Linked DNA regions of Homo sapiens: region 2 is linked to region 1. The links come from fine-mapping of genetic effects on gene expression. Tissue or cell type: adrenal gland. Region 1 holds a variant in brackets; the other region holds the start of a gene. All regions are shown on one strand. Distances are between the middles of the regions.

Region 1 (8,102 bases):
TTGGTTGGTGAGTTCTGTAGAGGATCCTCCAGCATCAGGTTTGACAAAGTCTGAGCCAGGTTTTATTTATTTATTTATTTATTTATTTATTTATTTATTTATTTATGTTTAAACAAGTTCTCGCTCAGCCACCCACACTGGAGTGCAGTGGCACCATCTTGGCCCACTGCAACCTCCACCTCCCAGGTTCAGATGATTCTCATTCTTGTGCCTTAGCCTCCTGAGTAGCTGGGGTTACAGGCATGCTCCACCACCCCCAGCTAGTTTTTGTATTTTTAGTAGAGACGGGGTTTCACCATGTTGGCCAGGCTGGTCTTGAACTCCTGACCTCAGGTGATACGCCCGCCTCGGCCTCCCAAAGTGCTAGTATTATAGGTGTGAGCCACTGCGCCCGTGGGCCAGTTATCCTTTACGCCTCCTGGCTACCTGCAGCCTTAAGAGTTGATGACTTGGCCGGGCGCAAGATGACTTCTACCAAGGCGGGCGGATCACCTGAGGTGAGTAGTTCAAGACCAGTCTGGCCAACATGGTGAAACCCCATCTCTGCTAAAATACAAAAATTATCTGGGCATGGTGGCGGGTGTCTGTAATCCCAGCTACTTGGGAGGCTGAGGCAGGAGAATCACTTGAATCCAGTAGACGGTGGTTGCAGTGAGCCACAATTAGGCCACTGCACTCCAGCCTGGGTGGCTGAATGAGACTCCATCTCATAAAAAAATAAAAGAGTTGATGACTTAAGACCTACCTTGCTGCTGCTTCTTTTCTAGCCTTCTACCAAGAATAGGTGCTGAATTTTCCACTCTGATCTCCCCTTTTCCCCTCAGGGGTAAATGCTATCTCACTGAAGTAGATGTCTCAGCATCCGTGAGTTAGTGGCACCAACTCTGCCTCTTAAGCCAGAAATCCTGGGTTCGATACTTGGCTCTGTCACTTTCTGGTTTGTGCCTGTAAGTATAGCCATTCCTTCTGTGCCTGTCAATGCAATGGAGATAATATTGGAAATAACATCTGCTTCTTGTGATCATGGAGATTAAAATAACATATGTGAGAGGGCTTGGCACATTCTCTGTCCCTGATGTTCCGATACTAAACAGGAACTCAACAAATGCTGGTTCCCACCCTCCTTCCTTCCCCTCTTATGGAAGGGCATTGCTTTAGATTTCAGATTCAGAAAAGGAGGGTTGAATCTGAACTGAGTTTTAGGTTTCCCATCTATAAAATGAGAAAAGAAAAAGACATTTACACTGAGTTTGTTAGTAATCAGCCATCAGCCATTGGACTTGGCACTCTACTATATTAGGATTATTATATCTAATCCTCCCCACAACTTGGTAGGAGAGGCATTATCACCACTGCCTCACAGAGGAGGAAACTGAGGCTCAAGGAGGTGAAGAAACTTGCTCGAGGTTATGGGCTAAGGGTCAGAACTGGCTTCAAACCCAAGTCTCTCCAACCCAAAGCTTTCGCTTTTTTCTCTAAGATGCCACTACTGCTGCCATTATCACCACTACCACTGCGTGTTCTGTGCTGGTCTTGCCTTCTTCCCTTGTCCTCTGAGGCCACTGGACCCAATCGATGTGTATTTTTAGTGACTTTGAGTTTATTAACAAAAAGGAAACAAACATGTTGTAAAATAAGTTTATGACTTGAAGCATGCAAAATGGCAGAGGGTTACCCTTTTAGAGGATGATAATTTATAGTCACCTCCACCAACTCCAACCACCCATCCCCACTGGACCATGAACTTGGGTTGTCTTTTGCCCTCCACTTCACAGAGAAGGGGCTGATCAAAGGAGGGGCTGTCATTGCACTAGCTCTCGCCCTCCCCCTGTGGGTGAGTCAGCTCTGCCCAAGCTGGTAGAGTCAGGAAATAGTTCAGGTACCTCGAAAACAACTGTTTAAAGTGTCTGGGGGAAAATAAAGTGTTTTGGGGATGTCCCCAAGCCCCACTTGGCTTGGATAGCAAAGCTAGGGTGTCCTTTCCTTGCCTTTCCAACTCTTGGTCAAAATATGCTTCCTTGGGATGACTTAGAAGAGACTTGTTTGGGAATCACTTTTCTTTAACTTCCAGAATTCCTAACTAGGGTGCCTGAAGCAAGAGCTGGGTCTGGGAAATGACGCAGCTCCATGAGGAATGATGGAAACTATGCGAGCTGCTTTTAATAGCATCAAATATGGCACAGCACAGTCCTCCTTCTCCCTAGCCCCCACGTGCTGGTAGCCTGGCCCACATGCTCTGTGGCCCAGACTGAAAAGCCAGTGGTTGTCTCTTCAGGGCGGCTGTGGACCTGAATGTATGCGGGACACAACGTAGGAGGTTCAGGCATTAATCTCCAGTCTGTCCCATGAAAGACCCAAATGTAATTTTCTGGCCCAAGAAAATGAACCTTTGGCTTCTTTTTCTATCAGTGTAGAGGAGAGCACGGAGCTTGGGACTCAGCATGAGAAGATGTGGTCCTAGTCGCATCTGTCACATGCTGGCCGTGTCTCCCCTCTCTCTGAGCCTCCTTTTCTTCCGCACAGCTCCTCACAACGCTTGCAGCGCTAAAGGATGATGATTCCCAAATCATGTTTGCAATCACGAATTTCTCAGCCATGGCAGGGCTCTGTCTCAATCTATAGCAGACCTCTCTGGAGCAAAGTTAGGGACGGAGGAGGTAGAACTTCTTTCTCTATTTATCTTACATTTTAAACTTATTCTAATACTTTTCAAATATCGAATGTCTATATTTGTATAGTAGTACATATGTATAATTTGTAAATCAATTTGTAAATAAGATATTGGTAGCTTGTGCTTTAAGGTTTCTTTGTTTGTTTGAGATGGAGTCTTGCTCTGTTGCCCAGGCTGGAGTGCAGTGGCACCATCTCGGCTCACTGCAACCTCTGCCTCCCAGGTTCCAGCGAGTCTCATGCCTTAGCCTCCTGGGTAGCTGGGACTACAGATGCACACCACCACGCCCAGCGAATTTTTAAATTTTTAGTAGAGATGGGGTTTCACCATGTTGGCCAGGCTGGTCTGGAACTCCTGGCCTCACATGATCCACCTGCCTCGGCCTCCCAAAGTCCTGGGATTACAGGTGTGAGCTACTTCGTCCAGCCTTAAGGCTTTTTGCTGAAGGGAGGTGAGATTTAAAAATGTATGGAGACCACAGGGGGATGGGGAAGTCAACATGAGGCTCTGCTCACAGGCTGGGACCTCTGCCATTCCTGTCATGCCCTGGGCTCTCCACCGTCCTCCCAGAGGTGGATCACCAGAGCTCTGGGTGGAGAGGCCAGGCCCAGGAGTGGAAAGAGAAGAGGCCTGGAGCTTCACTCCTCATTAGATGCCTGCCTAATCTCTGTGAGCCTGTCTCTCCACGTTAATTAGGGGCAATAAAATACTCCTTATCTTTCAAGGTTATAGAAAAGATTAAATGAGACGATAGAGATGAAACGTGTGCTCAGTTCAAGTTGTTCCCCTTCCCCCCACATAATTTGCCTGTCTGCACGGGACTCATTTTAGATGTCTAAAAGAGTGAGATTTTTCTTTTCTGGGAAATTCTGTTTATTGACTTTATTGCGTCTCCTGTCTCACAGTTAAGCCTCCTTTACCAGACGCCAAAGTCCAGATCTACGTGCGGTTAGGTGCACAAGGCCAGCGGCAGGAGAGTGACGCTGGGGAATTCCTGCCTGGTCCTCCCAGCCCTCTGAGCGCCCCCCACTGCCAGGGGTTTGGGGCTCATCCAGGACACAGGACAGCATTCAAGGACACTTAGAAAAGAATGTGCCTCCAGCAGGTCAGCCAGCCATCCTCACTAGTGCCCCCAGGAAGGGATGGCTTGAGCTTTGCTGCCTCCTTCCAAGTCTGTTGCCACACTCGGTGACACTGGGATACATCTATTGTCAAAAGAAAGTCCCAGCTTTGTTGCTGTGTTTTTGGAGGCCTTGGGCAAGTCCCTCTATCTTTTTTGGCTTCAACATCCTCTGTTATAAAAAGGGATGAGTA[A/G]TATCTGTGTTGCCAACCTCCTGGCCTTGGTCCACAGGCCAAATGAGATGCTTCTGAATGAAAATACGTAGTAAGAAGTGAAAAGGATTGCGATGAGTAAGCTTCTTGTTGGTCCAATCAGTGCCAGTCCATGCTCATTTCTTCTCGAAAAGACCCACTGATTTTTATAGGGTAAGGAGGGGGAATGATTGGCAAGGCACTGACCAATCCCATTAGCTCTGAGAGGGGGATGATTTAGCATCACCTGCCTTATCAATCTCCCTGCCCCGCCTGCATCCTCGGCTTTTGGGGAGGTCAATTTCCGGCACACACAGAAAAGCCTGTGGCTGTGGCCGGGAACAATTGGCCACAGTGCTCCTCTCGTGTTGATCCTTTCATTTCCTCCTGCCGGGGACAGCGGTTCTAAGTTTCGCGCTACTCTTTTGGACTAATCGTTTACAACAGGCCTGAGCACTCAGCCCCTCTCTCACTTTTGCTGTCCAGCTACTGCTCTGTATGGCAAGGTCGCTAATTGGGACGTGATCCTGGCCAAATGGCAAGAGAGATTCAAGGAACCGGTTCCCTGGACCTCAAATATCCTGCCCCCAACTTTACAGCTCAGGCGGCCACGGAGGAAGCGTGAGTCATACTTGAGAGGTGAGGCCGCGGCTTAGGAAAGGCTTCGGCAATGACATTTTTCACGCTTTTAATAAACCCCTGTATTATTAGAACTTGCCAAAGCTGAATTTAATGAAAGTCTTAGGCCCTAAGGCCTGAATTTTTCTTTTGTATCGCAAAATGAAACCAACTGGTTCAATTCAAATTAACCCCAGAAAATGTGAGGGCTTTATATTTCTTTCTTTCCCCCCGCCTTTCTTCTCTCTCTCTTTCTCTGCTCTCTCATTTTGAAATTTTGCTGTGATTACAATCTCTTGGAAGAAAAGGAAATGTACAGGAGGAAGAAGAAATCAAACATGAGAAATATATTCAGATAGTTACAACTTTCTCTATGGGACTCCTTAAGCAGAGTTACCCATCACTGATACAAGTTCATATGAGAATTTTTTAAAGGAAGAGAATGAAAAGGCAAAAAATAAAGAGGTCCTCTCAAATTGTACCAGAGACACAATAGGATTTAACATTCAATTTTATGAAAGCTCCTTCAATTAGACCTGCTAAGCATCAGTCTTGTGCAATACTGGTGCCCCCCAAACAAACAAACAACCATTTCAGAAATAATAAAATGACACGTTCTTTATTTTTCAGATTTCTGAGGCTTAGCCCTTGGAAACTACCCTGGGGGGGCGATATTAGGGGTGGTAAAGTAATGTGCCACTGGGCACCTGGCCTTCAACTATTCAGAAGCTACGGTGGCAGGAAATAGCTCAGCGGCAGCTTCCGTGTTTGCAGGAGCTAATGAAAAGACATCTTTTTTCCCCCTCACAGCTACGTTCATAAACAAATGTTCACTATCCAACCTTCACTCCCATTTGGCACATAGTTCCCAATAGAGCAGGCCTTCAAATGCCTCCTTGTCCTTTATGGAGCAGAAAGGTACAAGGGCTCAGCCTTCAAGGCCTTCCCCGCGGGCCTTCCTGAAGGCAGGTCAGTCAGCCTCAGGGGGCACACGACCCCCACTGGAGCTACTGGACTAGAAAGTTACCCAAGATGTGGGGAGGGAAACGACTGTAGATACCCTGCCTTCAGCATCTAGAGGCAGGCAGTCGAAGGGGGCTGGGAAAAAACCCAGGCCCAGAGCTGCCTTTGTCTTGGCTGATTCCTCCTTTTGGGAATCAGGCTCAGCTCCGATTCCTGCAGGGAAGTCCCTGCTTGGCATCAAGGCTGGCCTCAGGCATAAGATCCTAATTATTTGAATGGTATTTGTTTTCATAGCTCTTTTTTTTTTAAAAAATGTGTCCAGGTCGATGGCATTTTAATGCCTTATTAAACAGGGGTTTTACAGCAGTCTGTCTGTTCAGTCTCTGGGCCCATGCCTGCACTTTGTGTGCAGGGATTTTATCTTTCCTGCTGGCCGAAAATATTTTCCGAATTCCCTATAAAAGTTTTCGAGATTTCCTAAGACAAATAGAGCTCCACCAGCTCTAAAATGACCTTGATGCCGTCGGAATTATATTCAGACACAGGCTTTCTCCCCTGTTTACACAAAGAACTGAACCTCACTTGTACTCATGAACTGCCGTTATGAGGACACCAAATTTGCTCCACAAATGTGCTGGTGCATAAAAACACAACTGTACCTGGGATGGCTCACCAGAGTCCCATACTTTACTGGTTTCTTCCATCCTCTCAGATGGCCGCCTTGGCTTTGAAGGCAGCATCAATAAAGCCTGTCCTGGATGCAGTTTCCATAAGAGTGGGCAGCAGCTCCCAGCTGAGGGAGCAGCCAGGCCTGTAGTGGGAACATGGCTGTCGTGAAGACCACAGAACCCACCCCTTTTGTTTACTTGCAAGTGTTTAAACCTTTGTGAAAATGAAGTCTTTTCAGAAAGAAGCTGGATTTAGAAAATATTACCATAAGCCACAAGTCAGGCTACTTAGTGTTATGGAAAAAACCTAGAACAGACATGGGTTCAAATCTCCTTTCTGACATGCTGTAGGGTGTGATCTTGGGCAAAATAAAAATAAAAAATAGTACCAGGTTCTTTATTTTAAAAAATGGGGAAAATTATATATGTATATGTCTCAGGGTAGTTGTGAGAATCGATATGAAGTAACGTGGCTGGGCGCGGTGGCTCATGCCTGTAATCCCGGCACTTTGAAAGGCCGAGGCAGGTGGATCACCTGAGATCAGGAGTTCGAGACCAGCCTGGCCAACGTGGTGAAACCCCATCTCTACTAAAAATACAAAAATTAGCTGGGCTTGGTGGTGGGCACCTGTAATCCCAGCTACTTGGGAGGCTGAGGCAGGAGAATCACTTGAACCTGGGAGACGGAAGCTGCAGTGAGCCGAGATTGTGCCGCTGCACTCCAGCCTGGGCAACAGAGTGAGACTCCGTCTCAAAAAAAAAAGAAAAAGAAAAAGAAAAAGAAAAAGAAATGAAGTAACGTATATAAAGCACAGAGGGCAATGACTGGCAAGAGTAATTGTAAATAGTAGCTACTATCTCCATTTCCTGAGGGTCCTTAGGACTCAGATGAGCAGAAGCACAGCCACTGTGTGTCCTGAGGCTTTGATAAAGATTCTGGAGGTGGGAGGGGAAAGGAGGTCTCAGAGACTGAGTGTCAACTCTGGGCCAGATACAGTGGTAGGCGGTGAAACTAGAATTTAAATTCCAATCTGACTCCAAGATCTGCAAGGGCTGGTTCCACTATGCAGATTGGGGAAAGTGTTGAAATTAAACATGGGGAATTATGTCAGCTGCCTGCAACACAGCCTAAGCCTGAACCAGGCCAGATGGGGCTCATTTTGTGTAGGTAGCATTAAAAAAAAAACCCTCCAATAGTAACTGTGTAGCCACCAGGAAGCTCCCTCTGAATTTCTATTTTGCTAGGTCATTTTTCAGCATTACCCTTTTGGTGGTATTTCACTAAAAATGCCACATTTAGTATTTAAGACAGACAGACAAATACCCTGGGAAGGAGTTTGTAGGGATGTCCAGCCCATTCAGAACATTCCTGCTTATTCCATGTCTGCTGGTGTTAAGCACGTCACAACCAAAGATGGAGGGTTGTCTGATGGCCGCAGTACAAAAGGACAATTAACCAGGGGTCATGTTTATGCTTCTATGGTTAGAACCAGTCATTTATTTAACTAAGACTTTCCACTTTCATGGAATCAATGAATACTCTGAATTTCAAGGACAATTGTATGTTTCATTCCTTGAAACTCTATTTGATTCTTTTTCAAGTCAGCTTAGTCTTAAAAATTATTGCTTTTTCTGATGTTCACAATCTCTTCTTTTTTGTATTTAATTATCTTAAACAATTTTAAAATAATCTCTAGATGATAATTCTGTTATCTGAGGTTCTTGTGGGGAGGGGTGACTAATCTAACTGCCATTTATTGGGTCTACTGATATTTCACAACAGATATTTATCTTTTATTGTTTTATAATTTTATGAGAATTCATCCTAAGCTAGGCTTTATCTCCTGTCAGATTCCTTCAGAAAAGTTTTG
Region 2 (8,102 bases), 42 kb before region 1:
TTTTAAATTTTATTTATTATTATTATTTTTGAGACAGACTCTCACTCTATCATCCAGGCTGGAGTGCAATGGCACTATTTCGGCTCACTGAAACCTCTGCCTCCCAGGTTCAAGTGATTCCCCTGCCTCAGCCTCCAGAGTAGCTGGGACTACAGGCATGCGCCACCATGTCTTGCTAATTTTTGTATTTTTAGTAGAGACAGTGTTTCACCATGTTGGCCAGGCTGGTCTTGAACTCCAGGCCTCAAATGATCCGCCTGCCTAGGCCTCCCAAAGTCCTGGGATTATAGGCATGAGCCACTGCGACCAGCCGAGAAACTACTTTTTAAAATTTAGGGCCAGGACAAAGTCTGTTCCTTCACCATTCACCAAAGAGTTACTGTTTCCACATTTCTGATATAGAGAACTACCATGTTGCTCTGCTGGCTCATAAGCCAGATTTTATTCTCAATTATAGCAACTTTGTCAGCACTTAGTGATAGCATATATGCTTACTCCTTTTTCCTTGATCCTAATGTGTTTTTCTACTTGTGTTTTTATTAGCTAATTCTGGTTATAAACCACCTCAAGCCTTTTGCGGAAAAGAGAAAAGTAGAATAAATTTTTAAAATACTTGGGAGCTAGCCTTTATCAACCATGCATTAATATAGGCAATCCTCACAATAAGCTAGTAGGTTGGCGTAATTATCCCCATTTTATATGAGCATTAATGAACTTGCCCAAGGTCACATAGCTGCAAAATGGTGAGCCAGGAATCAGAGCTAGGTTTCAAAACCAAGGTGAGCCTGCTACCAAACCTGAGCACTTTCCCCCAAGCCAACCCAAATCAGTGTGACCGATGTGTGGCACCGTCAGTTATTTGTTTAGCTAGTTGAGGAGGGTTTTCATATTTTGAACTCCTCAAAGTAGTTTTGGAGAAAAAAAAATTGGTCTTCTCCTCTTCTACACAGGCTCTTTTTCAGCAAATACTATGCAGCATCCATTATAAGCTTTTCTATTATTTTACATACGACTAAGAAGAAAAAACGCTGCTAATTAAGCTATGACACACCGCTAGCTATCAGATGCATCTCAGTTTCAGAGATACCAGAATGTGAAAAATGTGTGTCTTAGAGTCAGTTAAATGAGGTATTCCATTCTAATAATGGGGAATGTGCATACAGAACCGCTCTCATTTACTCACTTGCTGGCTGGTTTGCCCCTTCCTTTTTACTGCCAAAAGCTTACCTGTCCCTTCCATATCTCATTTCTCCATGTCATCATGAACCTGTTGATATTAATTTAGACTGTCTGCCATCAGTCTCCAGAAAGCCTTGCACTTATAGGAAGGTTCCAGTCTAGTTTGTTTGTTTTTGTTTGTTTGTTTTATTAAAGAACTATACGATACGATCTCAGTATGAACTTCCTCCAATGACTGTCAACAAATTCTTTCCAGAGTCTGGCCTAGCTCTAGTCTTCCCATAGTACCTGGTGATTCACTGCCCTCCCTGTTCACCATTCCACACAGTAGTTGGTTGCTTAGTCTGTATACTATTTATTTGCAAGGGATTTCCCTACAGGCTGTTGGAGAGGTCATGGGAGGGGGCTTGCGAGCAGAAGCTGAGGCATGTCATCCAGGTCTCCCTAACACAGGAAACACGACTCCCCAGGCATCTCCTGAAACGCCAGGGCCTTCCCTTTCTCCATTCCAGGAGTCCGCAGGTTTGGGGAAGGATTCTGCTCCTCCACTCCTCTTAGATATTATTTCCCCTCCCTGGTTTGAGACTCCATGAGAGGAATGGTGATAGGGTGGTGGGACCTGGTACTGCAATGGTGATAGGGACTTGAGCAGCGGCCCACTGTTGAGGTGGATTTCAGGCTCCTGACAGCAGCAGCGACTGGCTTTTCTGAGTTGGCGTTTTTGCTTCCACCTTTGAGTGCAGGGTGGTAAAGAAGGCATTGATGCTGGCTTTCCATTTCCTAGCATTAGAACAGGGACAGACCCATCCAGGAAAAGAATTTCCCTGTCCTCTCCCCTTCAAGCTGATTTTGAGGTCAGAATCTGGAAAGGGACAGAGGCTGGTTGAGGACACTGGTGGAGGGAGGGATGCAGCCCATGCTAAGCACTAAGGGACCACTCTGGGGATCCTTATTGATGAGGATTCTGCTGTCTTTGCAGATGGGTGGGCAGGCCTATTTCTGCCCCAGGATTCTGGGCATGTGACAGGCGGGGAGGCTGGGGCACGGGCTGGGGTCCGCATGGGTCCGTCTGCTAGTGGAAAGGCAGCGTCCTGTGGGAGGTACAGACAGAGAGAAACAGAGGTAAGTGGAGACAGAGAGCTCAGAGGCTGGGCAGGGAGGTCTAGGTGCTGAGCGGGACTCCGTTTCTGAGGCGGAAAGAACCGGGTGGCTGGGAGCAGGACGCTCCCCAGTCTCCACTTCCTAGACTAGGGCAGGCATTGGGCTTCCTCTTCAGCTCTCCAGGATCTCAAGGAGCTGCCGCGGAATCCTGGCCCTGGGCCGCAGTTTCCCCAGGAGGCTCTGCCAAGCCTGGCACCTTGCAGCCCGGCCTGGGCTCTGTCAAGGCCCGAGCCGGACTCGGCTCCACTCAGAGGCCGGCCCAGCACTTCCCTGCCGCCGCCGCCCCGCACCCGGCCACCGGGCTTCCTCCCAGTCCTCACCCCTGACCTCCGCGGCCGACTTCGAGGCGCGCCAGGCCGGGTCCAGCGCCCGCGGCCCCCTGGGCCGGGACAAGGAGGGCGGGTGAGCAGAAGGGCCGTGCCCAGGGCCTGGAAGTGCAAGGCCGCGTGGTGGGCATGGTAGGGAAGCGGAGCGTGGGCCTGTGAGGCGCGTGTGCGCCTGCGACCTCGGGACCGGGGCTCCCAAATGAACAGCGCGCACAGCTGGGAGCAGGGCTTGGGGAGCGGGGCTCTGCGGCCGGGGATCCGTAGAAGCCGCTGCCTGGAAGCGGGCGCCGGCAGGGGGTGGCCAGACCCGGTCGTGGAGCGTCCTAGTCTTCGGGCACGGCGGGGCCAGGCGAGCCCTCCTGGTTGTCGAGCCTCGGCTGAGAGCCGGGCTGCTCGCCCTTGCTTCCCGCCTCTCTAATCTAAACCATGCGGGGCTCCCAGCCCCTACCCGGCTCGCGGGGCCCGAGGGCCAAGAGGAGGGCACTGGGCCGCGCGGTGGAGGAGCCGGCGGCTCGCGTGGGGCTCGGGATCTTGGGGACCGCGACGCCGGGGAACCCTGGAGCCCCCCTCCCCGGGGGACAGCGGGCGCAGACTGATTGACAGCGGCGACGTCAGCGCGGAGGGGGGGCGGCCCCAGAGGGAGGGAGGGAGGAGGAGGGAATTGAGGCCCCAAAGTGCAGCCTTGGAGATCAAGGGCCCGCTCCAGAGCCGGGATGTGTCCAGCCCCGAGGGCACGGCAGGCAGCTGGACCCTGACCCAGCGGCGCGGAGTCGGAGCCCCGGCCGTCCCGCGCTCCTCGGACCCGAACCTGCAGGGGACCTCGGGCCGCTGGCGCCTCCGCATGCGGCACCGCAATTAGGGTGAGTGTGGGTTCCAGCCGAGTGGGGACGAGCTGGGCGTGCGGGGCTGGGGCCACAGGGGCTCAGGGTTAGGCTGCGGGGACGGACAGGAGGATGAGCTGGAAAGGGGTGAGTCACGCGACCCGGGGAAGAACTTCAGGGGCGGTCAAAGTTGCAGGAAGGCGGCGCGAAGTGCCTTGGGTCGGGCCGCCGCCTCGGCCCGACACCCAGTAGTTGGGGCACGAGCCCTCCTCTCTGAGTAACGCGATGAATTGGGTCTAGAGATCCAAGAGCATAGAAATATCGACAGCGCCAGCACCCTAAGAACAAGGCCGTGACAGGCGGAGCGGTGGCCTGGAAATTGGTGTTTGCAGAATATGCAAGGCCAAGGAAGAGGGCCCCGGTACTGGAGCGAAAATCCGTGTAGATATGTGAGTGATCAGAACACTAGACTCAGAGCCTTTGATGCAATAGACTAGTCAAAATTAAAGCAAGGAACATTATATATAAATAATGATCGATGATTAAAGATTATTGGAATGTGAACAATTACCAAAGAAAGGGCTAATCGGCATAACTGATATAACACGTGAACTTCCAAATAATACAATCATAGTCACTTTCAGAATCAAGTGAAAATAGTAATCACAATTTTTAAAAGGATTAAAGACAAAGTAATTCTAAATAGAGGAACAATGTAAGGACTGTTTATTAAAACCAATTGCACTAATATAACATATAGTAATAGTGTAACAAATTACCAAACTGTAGGAAACTAGCAAACGAACTGTAGGAGAAAGATGAACAATGAAAATACTATTAAGGGAAATACTATTAGTGGTAGTGATATAATAATATAATGTATTATTGATACTACAGTGAACTATTAAAAGAAATATTAACTAAAATCTTAGGAGCAATAGTAATATAAATAAAGACATATTAACAAGAATTGCTGGAGTAATATGACAATTTATGACCAATGTATTAATAGTCACAAGAACATTATAAATAATGGTTGAGTAATAAGAAGTATTGTACCAATGTGATGAAAAATAATCAGAGTATTAAGAGCTACAACAATATTACAAAGTATGACAAAATAACAAGAAGTAATGATGTGATGAGTAACTAGCGAGTTCAGATCTGTAACATTACAAATAATGACAAAGTAACAAGATACTGTCGGGGTGTGTTGAAGAATAATACCTGGAGTGTTATGAGCAAGCCTAACAAAACAAATTGTGGTTAGATAACAAGAAGTATTATAAGGATGTGAGGGAAATTAACATGAATTTTGAGAACAATTATATAACAAGTTATGGTAAACAAGAAGTTATTGAAACAGCGTGACAAAGTATAATCAAAATGAAGAGCAAGCAACGGAAACGTATTAGGGATACAAAGCAAGAATAAAAAATTACAATAGATTAACGTGACCTATTGTTCACTATGTCACCTCGATATTGGAAATAGTATTATGAATGTGCCAGGCGGCCCTGAAATGATGGAACAGTGACAGGAAAACAACAAATTTAGTAACAGTAAGCTAACGAATCAAAGCAGGGCTTTAACCATACAGTATTAAAGATACAAAGTAGTAATAATCCACGCGATAGGATATTCTCAAAGTTCCCGAACTGATCAAAATACTACTATGGTAATAAGGACAATTAAAATATTTTAAAAAGCACGAAATAGTAACAGTTCCCCTAGTGCAAGAAACATATCCCCAGTAACCTAAAAATGAAAAGAGAAATGCTGTCGTCTTTGGAAAACGAGGCAGCTGAAAGCAACAGACCCCATCGCAAAGGCAGCGGAGGTTGCGGGCCGCACCCGCGGAGGAGTGGATGTGAAGGACGAGAGCGGACCGCTATGCGGTGCTGAGTGCGGGACCCCGCGGTGCTGGCGGCGGCCGAGCGCGCCCAAGCTCGAGGTCCGAGAGGACCGCGAGGACGGCCGCCCCGGGCCAGCCGGGCGTGGAAAAAAGGAAATTGCTGGGAAGGGGGCAAGCTGTCCCGAGGTCTGGATGTGGCTTCGTGGCGGAGAGAAAAGGAAGAGGCAAACCCTGAGCCCGGGAGGGAGAGCACTGAGCAGGCCTCGTCCCCAGTCCGAGCTGCGGGACCGGCGTCAGTGGACGCGGGCGGTGAACCAGCTCCTCACAGGGCAGGGCTGAGCGCGTAGGACTGAGAGCGCAGGGCGCGAGCCGCAGGGCTCCGCTGCACGGCTCCGGGTGTGACAAGAGCCCAGCAGAGGACCCCATGGCCATGCGGGCCAAGCGCGAGACGGCCCCTCCTTGCGACCCCGCAGGCCGCCACATCTGGGACCAGCGGATCGCTTGGTCGCTGGAGCCGATCCCGCCGGGGCCCTAGATATAGTTGGACCCAGCGCGCTGGCCGGAGCGGGCAGCTACCCTACTGGCGCAGCGGCCCTGTGTGGGGACTCCTAGGTTTCCGAGGCTCGGCCCGCGTTCGCACGTGGCCCGAGGCGGGTGCTGGCGCTGGCCATGTCCAGCGAGTCTCACTCCCTGCAGGCTGTGGCCGAAGACTGGTCCGCCTGTCAACCTTATCTTTATGGGTTTTTCCCAACCCAGACTGGCCCCGGCCCCTTTTTATCTCCTGGGTTGCACTTGGCTTGTTTACTTTGCGAGGTCCTGGGAGTCGAAGTCTAAGCCCGGGATGAGGAGGCCTCTGAACAAGATGGGCGAGAGGCCTGAGCCCGGGGATGCTCCGGGAGGGCCCGGGGAGAGCGGGAAGAAGGTAGGAAGAGAAAGGCGGGGCATTCCGCCTCAAGAAGGGCCGTCAGACCTACAGAAAGCTCCGCTGGAGCGCCCAGGTCCAGCAGGATGGGGAAGAGCAGGGAGGTGGAAAGGGGAAGCGGAGCAAGCGGGGCACACCCTTAAGGGATGCGGGCAGGCTGGCCTCTCAGGCTGTGCTCTCATCCCGAGGCCCCAGGACCTGCTTCGGGCAGGGAGCAGGCACCTGAGTAGGCGAGGGAATCAGCCAAGACAGCCGAAGAAATGTAGCTGTGCCAGGCAGGGCTAAGCGGTTCCTGTGAATGGGCCCAGCCTGCTGGCCTGGTCCTTCACTGGGAAGGGTGTGGGTCTTTAGGCCCAAAGCAGAGCCCTGTGGCGCTAAAGTGTGCCTGAGTGAGCCTGTAGGTTCGAACTCGAGCACCAGGTAGGGGAGGCCTGGGCTGAGGGCAGAGCCTGGATCAGTCACCCAGGAGAGTGTGGCTGCTCAGGCTGGTGGGATGCTGTGTGAGGGGCTGTGTTTGGGTGTGAGGATGTCTGTGCCAGAACGGGAAGAGGATGTGTGTGGACGGGGAGTGTGTTGGAGTGAAAGCCTTTGGTTCAGGAAGTCTCTACCTCAGTGCTGTCTGAGGGGTTGGGTGAGGGCAGATGGGTGAGCTGGGCCTGAGGTCCTGAGGCCCTCTCTGCACACAGGTGTGGAGCTGCAGGAGCCTGGGCCCTGCCCTCCAGCCTGGCTCTCCTTTCCTGCATGGCCAGGAGGTGTCCTGGCTGTCCTGGGCCCACAGAGAGGCCTGGACCCCAGTTATTGGGGAACAGCCGAGAAGGCCCAGGCCTCAGGCTCCACCGGAGCTCAGTAGGAGTGAGGGACTCGGGGTGCAGCTGTGGCAATGCCGAGAGGGCGGTCCCTCCCCTAGACCTACTCATCACAGAACCCCACACCCAGGGGCAGGCAGACATTGAACTGCCGCAGACCCTCCCAGGTCCACAGCCTGAAGGGAGGAGGCGAGGGACCTGCCTTCCTTGCGGGTTCCCTCCTCCAGCTCAGGAGGGGGCGGGGTCCACGTGCTCCAGGGCTGCCTCCGCGCCCCGCACGAAGTCCCGGAATCGGCTGGAGAGGGCCAGGGGTCCTCTGGCGAGTGTGGACCTGGGCGAGTGACTCGTTGTGTGCTGTGCCCGCAGGAGATGCTGCAGGATAAGGGCCTGTCCGAGAGCGAGGAGGCCTTCCGGGCCCCGGGCCCAGCGCTCGGAGAGGCCAGCGCAGCCAACGCCCCCGAGCCCGCGCTGGCAGCGCCGGGCCTCAGCGGAGCCGCGCTAGGCAGCCCCCCGGGACCCGGGGCCGACGTCGTCGCCGCCGCCGCCGCGGAGCAGGTAGGGCTGCGCCAGCCGTCGGGTAGAAGTCGGGCGTCGGTCTGTCTGCGGGGCCGCCTGTGTCCGTCTTTCCGTCCGATTGTCGGCAGGACTCGCTTTCAGGAGGACCTGGCTGCATTCAGGACGGTCTGCCCGTTCGTTCTCCACTGGACATGGCTCGCTTTCTCTGCCTTTTGGGTCCTTCTCCACTTTGAGCCCTCGGGGCTACTCTGGGACAAGCAAGAGCTAGAGCTAGAGATAGAGGAGAGGGCGGTAAGAGAGAGGGAGACCCCCGTAGCATCTGAGCGAGCCTGGACCAAGTGTCCAGCTCCAACAACCCGTAGAGGGCCTGGGACCCAACGGCGAGGGGGCAGGAGGAGGCCACCCCGCCGGTGCGCACGGGAGCCGCTGCGGGGATCCGAGGCCTCTGGGACGTCGCCGAGGGCTTCACAGTGATAATCGGACGATCACAGCGCACGGGATGCCGCCTGGGGATCT

Alleles and levels. Alleles are on the strand shown, and positions count from the first base shown. SD is a standard deviation of normalised expression in the study named.
With allele G in place of A in region 1, the expression in adrenal gland of the gene that starts at base 3,371 in region 2 is lower (moderate effect, 0.52 SD a copy in GTEx).

The links. PIP is the estimated chance that this variant, and not a neighbour inherited with it, causes the effect.
Region 2: TBX4 starts here. The variant in region 1 is fine-mapped to the expression of TBX4 in adrenal gland (GTEx, PIP above 0.99).

The regions. Positions count from the first base shown.
Region 1 is chr17:61,491,150-61,499,251 of GRCh38, forward strand. No RefSeq gene overlaps it. Among named protein-coding and RNA genes, the nearest start is that of TBX4, 43 kb to the left of the region's middle. The variant A/G (reference allele first, on the strand shown) is at 3,986.
Region 2 is chr17:61,449,052-61,457,153 of GRCh38, forward strand. TBX4 (T-box transcription factor 4) reads left to right here and starts at 3,371. Exons shown (of 9, transcript NM_001321120.2): 1 at 3,371-3,526; 2 at 7,437-7,625. The coding sequence starts at 7,440. It overlaps LOC124904042 (a long non-coding RNA gene), which reads right to left. Exons shown (of 2, transcript XR_007065872.1): 2 at 4,191-8,102. RefSeq lists enhancers at 3,341-4,182, 4,983-5,864, 5,865-6,745.